Linked DNA regions of Homo sapiens. The protein of the gene in region 1 purifies or fractionates together with the protein of each later gene. This does not show direct contact. Each region holds a gene or a part of one and is shown on either strand. Other genes may lie near its edges. The genes, in order: CTBS and ACAD10.

What was found.
Region 2: the proteins of CTBS (region 1) and ACAD10 fractionate together in Homo sapiens (co-fractionation; one large-scale study listed by BioGRID). This does not show direct contact.

The regions. Positions count from the first base shown.
Region 1 is NC_000001.11:84,557,345-84,561,162, forward strand, and holds part of CTBS (di-N-acetylchitobiase precursor), read right to left. Parts: intron 1-3,818. UniProt on the Homo sapiens protein: Involved in the degradation of asparagine-linked glycoproteins. Hydrolyze of N-acetyl-beta-D-glucosamine (1-4)N-acetylglucosamine chitobiose core from the reducing end of the bond, it requires prior cleavage by glycosylasparaginase.
Region 2 is NC_000012.12:111,748,528-111,752,345, reverse strand, and holds part of ACAD10 (acyl-CoA dehydrogenase family member 10), read right to left. Parts: intron 3,174-3,818; coding exon 3,001-3,173; intron 1-3,000.

The DNA.
Region 1 (3,818 bases):
CAACATGGTGAAACCCTGCCTCTACTACAAATACAAAAATTAGCTGGGTGTGGTGATGCATGCCTGTAATCCCAGCTACTCAGGACGCTGAGGCAGGAGAATTGCTTGAACCTGGGAGGCGGAGGGCGCAGTCAGCCGAGATCGTGCCACTGCACTCCAGCCTGGGCGAAAAGAACAAAACTCCATCTCAAAAAAAAAAAAAAAAAAAAGAAAAAAAAAAAAAGAAGGAGGCTGGGCGCGGTGGCTCACACCTATAATCCCAGCCCTTTGGGAGGCCGAGATGGGCAGATCATGAGGTCAGGAGATCGAGACCATCCTGGCTAACACAGTGAAACCCCGTCTCTATTAAAAAAATACAAAAAAATTAGCCAGGCTTGGTGGCGGGCACCTGTAGTCCCAGCTACTTGGGAGGCTAAGGCAGGAGAATGGCGTGAACCCGGGAGGCGGAGCTTGCAGTGAGCCAAGATCGCGCCACTGCACACCAGCGTGGGCGACATAGTGAGACTCCATCTCAAAAAAAAAAAAAAGAGGAAGGAAACAGTTATAACTAGATTTTTTTCTAAAGTGGCATTAAATGGCCTTCAATGCGCACCAAAATGTTTCCTGAATTCTGAGACCTAAAGAATGTGTTTCTTCATAGAAACAGAGTAAAAAGGTGGTTACCAGAGGCTGGGGGTGGGAAGAATAGATATTTCAAGACACAAATTTTCAATTAGGAACAATAAATACAAGAAATCTACTGTATCCCGTGGTAACTATAGTTAATAACAATGTATTATGTTGAAAATTCCTAAGAGAATGGATTTTAAGTGTTCTTACCATTTAAAAAATGGTATGTGAGGTAATACATATGTTAAATAACTTGATTTAGCCATTTCACAATGTATAGATATATCAAAACATCATCTTCTACACCATAAATACAGATAATTTTTGCCTGCCATTAAACTTTTTTTTTTTTTTGAGACGGAGTCTCGCTCTGTCGCCCAGGCTGGAGTGCAGTGGCGGGATCTCGGCTCACTGCAAGCTCCGCCTCCCGGGTTCACGCCATTCTCCTGCCTCAGCCTCCCAAGTAGCTGGGACTACAGGCGCCCGCCACTACGCCCGGCTAATTTTTTTTGTATTTTTAGTAGAGACGGGGTTTCACCGTTTTAGCCGGGATGGTCTCGATCTCCTGACCTCGTGATCCGCCCGCCTCAGCCTCCCAAAGTGCTGGGATTACAGGCGTGAGCCACCGCGCCCGGCCACTTTTTTTTAATTAAAAAAAAAAAAGAGGCCAAGTGCAGTGGCTCACACCTGTAATCCCAGCATTTTGGGAGGCCAAGGTGGGAGAATCACTTGAGGCCAGGAGTTCAAGACCAGCCTGGGCAATATAGAAAGACCCCGTCTCTACAAAAAGTAAAAAAATCAGCCTGGCATGATGGCACACGCCTATGGTCCTAGCTACTTGGTAGGCTGAGGCAGGAGGATTGCTTGAGCCCAAGAGGTCAAGGCTGCAGTGAGCCATGATTGTGCCACTGCACTCCATCCTGGGTGACAGAGCAAAACCTCGTCTAAAAAAAAAGAAGAATGTGTTCCTGCATTTTCACATTCATTAAGGAAAAAACAAGCCACAGATTACTAAGGTCAGGATTACAAAGAAACAGTATATGGTAGTATATACTGTCCTAAGATTCTATGTTACATATTTTTAAATTACAGGCATACCTCATTTTATTGTACTTTGCTTTATTGTGCTTTGCAGACATTAAATTTTTTGCAAATTGAAGGTTTATGGCAACTCTATTGAACAAGTCTACTGGTGCCATTTTTCCAACAGCAAGTGCTCATTTTGTGTCTGTGTCACATTTTGGCAATTCTTAAAATATTCCAAACTTTTTCATTATTATTATTATATCTGTTATGATGATCTGCAATCAGTGGTCTTTGATGCTACTATTGTAATTGTTTGTGGGCACCATGAACTGCCCATATAAGACTTAATAACAATATTTGGCTAGGCGCGGTAGCTCACGCCTGTAATGCCAACACTTTGGAAGGCCGAGATGGGAGGATCACTTGAAGTCAGGAGTTTCAAACCAGCCTGGCCAACATGGTGAAACCACATCTCTACTAAAAATACAAAAAATTAGCCGGGCATGGTAGGGCATCCCTATAACCCCAGATATTTGGGAGGCTAAGGCACGAGACTCACTTACACCTAGGAGGCAGAGGTTGCAGTGAACTGAGATTGTGCCACTGCACTCCAGCCTGGGTGACGGAGCGATACTCCATCTCAGAAAAAAAAGACTTAATAACGATATTGAAATTAGACTAATAACCTTACAATGGGAATTTTGCAATGAATAAAAAAGAGGAAGAAAATAGTTATAATTAGATTGTTTTCTGAAGTGACATTAAATGGCCTTCAAGGCTCACCAAAATGTTTCCTGAATTCTAAGAGCTTAAACAATGTGTTGGCCAGGTGCAGTGGCCCATGCGTGTAATCCCAGGCCTTTGGGAGGCCAAGGTAGGCGGATCACTTGAGGTCAGGAGTTTGAGACCAGACTGGCCTACATAGTGAAACCCCATCTCTACTAAAAATATAAAAATTAGCCCGGCATAGTGGCGGGCACCTGTAATCCCACCTATGGGGGAAGCTGAGGAGTAGAATTGCTTGAACCCAGGAGGCAGAGGGTGCAGTGAACCCAGAGGGCGCCACTGCACTACAGCCTGGGCGACAGAGCAAGACTCTGTCTCAAAAAAAAAAAAAAAAAGAAAGAAAGAAAGAAAGAAAGAAAGAAAGAAAGGAAAGAAAGAAAGAAAGAGAAACTAGAATCCCTCTTCCCTAAAATGGGTCATAGAAACTAGAGCCTCTTTTCCCCAAAACCAGCCATAAAGTCTAAAAATGTTACTCTAACCTTTCCCACCACCACCTTTCTGTGTAATAGCTGGCCATAAAGAAATTAAGACCCTCATTCCAGAGAGGTCCTACCCCATACCCATGAGAAGAAATCCTTCACAGAGAGGCCAAGAAAAATCTGAACAGACAGTCCTTGCTGAGTTTTCCCACTCAGTCTGTTTGCATTAGCTCATGCCCTTTATTCTGATCACAGTTCTACATAGCTGTCCATACTTCGTTGAACCTAAGCACAAAAATGGACAGTTTTTCCTGTATCTTTGGGTTTTCATTCTGAAACCTCCCATGTCGGGTAAAATTATGATCAAACACATTTTAAAAGGCAGAGACCCCTTTCTTCAAATAAATCTTATATTGGAAGAAGATGATGCCATTTAAGACTTTGCTAGCTAGACAGGAGAAGTCAATACCTGGCTTTAAAGCTCAAAGTACAGGCTGATTCTCTTGTTAGGGACTAATGAGGGTGGTAACTTTAAGTTGAAGCCAGTGTTCATTTACCATTCCAAAAATCCTATGGCACTTAAGAATTATGCTAAATTGACTCTGCCTGTGATCTATAAATGGAATAACAAAGCCTGGCTCACAGCACATCTGTTTACTGAATATCTTAAGCCCACTGCTGAGATGTACTAAGAAAAAAAAGAGATTTCTTTCAAAATATTACTGCTCATTGACAATGCACTTGGTCACCCAAGAGCTCTGATGGAGAACACAAGATGAATGTTATTTTCATGCCTGCTAACACAACATCCATTCTGCAGCCCATGGAACAAGGAGTAATTTCAACTTTTAACTCTTATTAATTAAGAAATAGATTTTGTAAGGCTGTAGCAGCCAAAGACAGTAACTCCTTTCATGGATCTGGCCAAAGTAAACTGAAAGCTTTTTGGAAAGGATTCACCATTCTAGATGCCATTAA
Region 2 (3,818 bases), on another chromosome or scaffold:
AGGCATGAACCACAGCACCCGGCCAGCCTGCTTAAAACAATAACAACAACAACAACAACAACAACAAAACATTATTTTGCATCAAAGCTAACAGCCTGTTTTTGTTTGTTTTTTTTTTTCCCAGACAGGGTGTTGCTCTGTTACCCAGGCTGCAGTGCAATGGCACACTCACAGGTCGCTGCAGCCTCGACCTCCCAGGCTCAGGAGATCCTCCCACCTCAGCCTCCTGAGTAGCTAGGACTATAAATGTGTGCCACCACACCTGGCTACTTTTTTTTTTTTTTTTTGAGACAGAGTATCGCTCTTGTTGCCCAGGCTGGAGTGCAATGGTGCGATCTCGGCTCACCGCAACCTCCACCTCCCGGGTTCAGGCGATTCTCCTGCCTCAGCCTCCCAAGTAGCTGGGATTACAGGCATGCGCCACCACGTCCAACTAATTTTATATTTTTAGTAGAGACAGGGTTTCTCTATGTTGGTCAGGCTGGACTCGAACTCCCGACCTCAGGTGATCTGCCCACCTCGGCCTCCCAAAGTGCTGGAATTACAGGTATGAGCCACCACACCCAGCCCCACCTGGCTACTATTTTTAATTTTTTAATTTTAATTTTTTTTTTTGAGATGGAGTCTTGCTTTGTCACTCCGGCTAGAGTGCAGTGGTGCAATCTCAGCTCAGTGCAACCTCCGCCTCCTGGATTCAAGTGATCCTCCTGCCTCAGCCTCCCAAGTAGCTGGGATTACAGGCATGTGCCACCATGCCCAGCTAACTTCTGTATTTTTAGTAGAGACGGGGTATCACCATGTTGGCGAGGCTGGTCTTAAACTCCTAACCTGAAGTGATCCGCCCACCTCAGCCTCCCAAAGTGCTGAGATTACAGGCGTTAGCCACCGCGCCCAGCCTTATTTTTTATAGAGATGAGGTTTTGCCGTATTGCCCAGGCTAGTTTCAAATTCCTGGGCTCAAGCAATCTGCCTGCCTCGGCCTCTCAGAGTGCTGGGAGTGTCACCACACCTGGCCACAGTCTTTTTTTTTAAATTTAAGTGTATATAGTGAGCAATTTCTCCATGTTAAGGAATAGATTTCCACAGCATCATTTAAAGTCTCACTGTATGCCATCTTGTGTTTTATTTGGCCAACAGTCATTGTTAGCCTTATAGGTTGTTCAGAATTTTGCTATTTCAATAAGCACTGTGGTGAACCTCCTTGTAGCAAATCTTTTGTAGATTCCTAATTACTCCAACCAAGTCTTCAGTGGAGGTGCCATGTTCATGCTATGCACTTTCTGGAGACTTCTGTCTGACTCATTCAGTCCAATTATTCTGCCAGAAGGCTGAATTTAATTCCATGTGGGGCTGAAGCACCATACCTGAGTCCATAGACAGGAGCGTTTTACTTAGAAAGAAAAAATAACTGGTCAGTCTTAACTCAAAAGGGTGTAAATCACAGGTTTGCTCGGTAATAAAAAATTCAGACTGCCTCTGTTCTTTCAATAGCAGTTCTTGTGAGACACTGGTTTTGGTCTCAGGGTTTGCGTCACCTTTCTGAAATTGATAATCACCAATTTGAATTCCTGTCCTGGAAGCAGCTGTCTTTTAACCTAGGTTTCCAAACTTTGGGGGTGGTAGGATTATGGCCGAATAAAGTTTTCTGGATGTGCTGTGGAGGAGGGTGGTACAGGCCAGATGATGGAAGCCTAGGGACAAAAACAAGCAACATGGGATCTCCCTGGTGTCTGATTTTTATTTATTTATTTATTTTTAAAGAGACAGGGTCTCACTCTGTCACCCAGGCTGGAGTGCAGTGGTGTGATCACTGCTCACTGCAGCCCTAAACTCCTGGGCTCAAGCGATCCTTCTGCCTCAGCCTCCTGAGTAGCTGGGACTAGAGACACATGCTACCATGCCTGGCACTTAAAACTTTTTCTTTTTGGCCAGGCACGGTGGCTCACGCCGGTAATCCCAGCACATTGGGAGGCTGAGGTGGGCGGATCATGAGGTCAGGAGATCGAGACCATCCTGGCTAACACGGTGAGATCGAAACCATCCTGGCTAACATGGTGAAACCCCATCTCTACTAAAAATACAAAAAATTAGCCAGGCATGGTGGCGGGTGCCTGTAGTCCCAGCTACTCGGGAGGCTGAGGCAAGAGAATGGTGTGAACCCAGTAGGCAGAGGTTGCAGTGAGCCAAGATCGCGCCACTGCACTCCAGCCTAGGCAACAGAGTGAGATTCCGTCTCAAAAAAAAAAAAAACAAAAAAAACTTTTTCTTTTTTTTGCCGGGCACGGTGGCTCACACCTGTAATCCCAGCATTTTGGGAGCCCGAGGCGGGCAGATCACGAGGTCAAGGGATCGAGACCTTCCTGGCCAACATGGTGAAACCCTGTCTCTACTAAAAATACAAAAATTAGCTGGGCGTGGTGGCACGTGCCTGTAGTCCCAACTACTTGGGAGGCTAAGGCAGGAGAATTGCTTGAACCCGGGAGGTGGAGGTTGCAGTGAGCCGAGATCACACCACTGAACTCCAGCCTGGTGACAGAGCAAGACTCCATCTCAAAAAAAAAAAAAAAATTTTTTTTTTTTTTGTAGAGACTGAGTCTCTCTTTTTCGCCTAGGCTGGTCTCAAATGCTTGGCTTCAAGCAACCCTCCTACCTAGACCTCCCAAAGTACTGGGATTATAGCTGTGAGCCATTGCACCCAGACTGATTTTTAATAATGTGCTAGCAGCATGACCTTTACACCTTGGAACCTTGCCTCTGCTGCTACAGAGCCTGGCGTTTCCCTTCAGGTCACCTCGACAGAGTGGGGTCCATTCTGCTCTGAATCCAAACTGCAGCAAAGTAGCAGATGCAAAGCAGACAGGAATGCAACTTCTTGGCAAGGACATCACCTTGCTTCACCTGCTAGGACTGCACTCAGAAAACAGGTAGGAATTGAAGTCCGACAGCAAAGCAGAAGGTGGTGGTTCTGAGTCAGTGCTGGGTGCGGGGGAAAGCACTCACGCGGGCCTTCATGAGTGCCAGGGCCCTCTCTGAGAACCCGATCAGCCTCATGCAGTGATGGATCCTGCCGGGGCCCAGTCTGCCCTGGGCGATCTCAAAGCCTCGGCCAGGGCCCAGGACCATGTTCTCTTTGGGCACACGCACGTGCTCAAATCGGACTTCACCATGGCCACCTGAAAGACCCAAACGATCACTGTGAGCAATAGCCATAGTCATTTTCCTTGGATGTGTTTATTCCTCACCTCAGTCTGGGTTATCTGCTGGCAATGTCCCTGCCCTTTATTTAGCCTTCTTACTGGGACATGGTTAAAGGGAAAAGGACGGCAGGAAACAGCCTGTTAAACACAGAAAATGAATCACTGATTTATAATGGCAAATGACTATTCTGTGATTCCTTTTATAAAAACATAATAATGCCACCTTAAGCTGAAGCTCCTAGTGGTTTGTGACAATGTAGTGATCCTATGAAAACACTGAAAGTAAAAATGTGAACACTATTAGCAGAGAACCAAACTGGGAGCGGACCAAACCAGGGCTGTGGCCTAGAGGTCAGCTGTTCACACTGGGGCCTGGAAGAGTAGGTTTGGGGTCCACTTCCTGCGTCTGCCCTGTATGGCTTCCTGTGTCACAGACTCCTGATTACTTTCTAAGTTTAGAAGAGGGAAAAAAATCCATAAATGCCTGTCTGAAATCCGCCTGCATGGTTGATATTCATGTATGGAAATGAAATGCAGGAGCATGTGACTCCAAATGTCATCATACCCTCAGACGTGGGATGTGGCAAGTCCTGAACAAGAGCAGGGGCCCCTCAGTGGTGT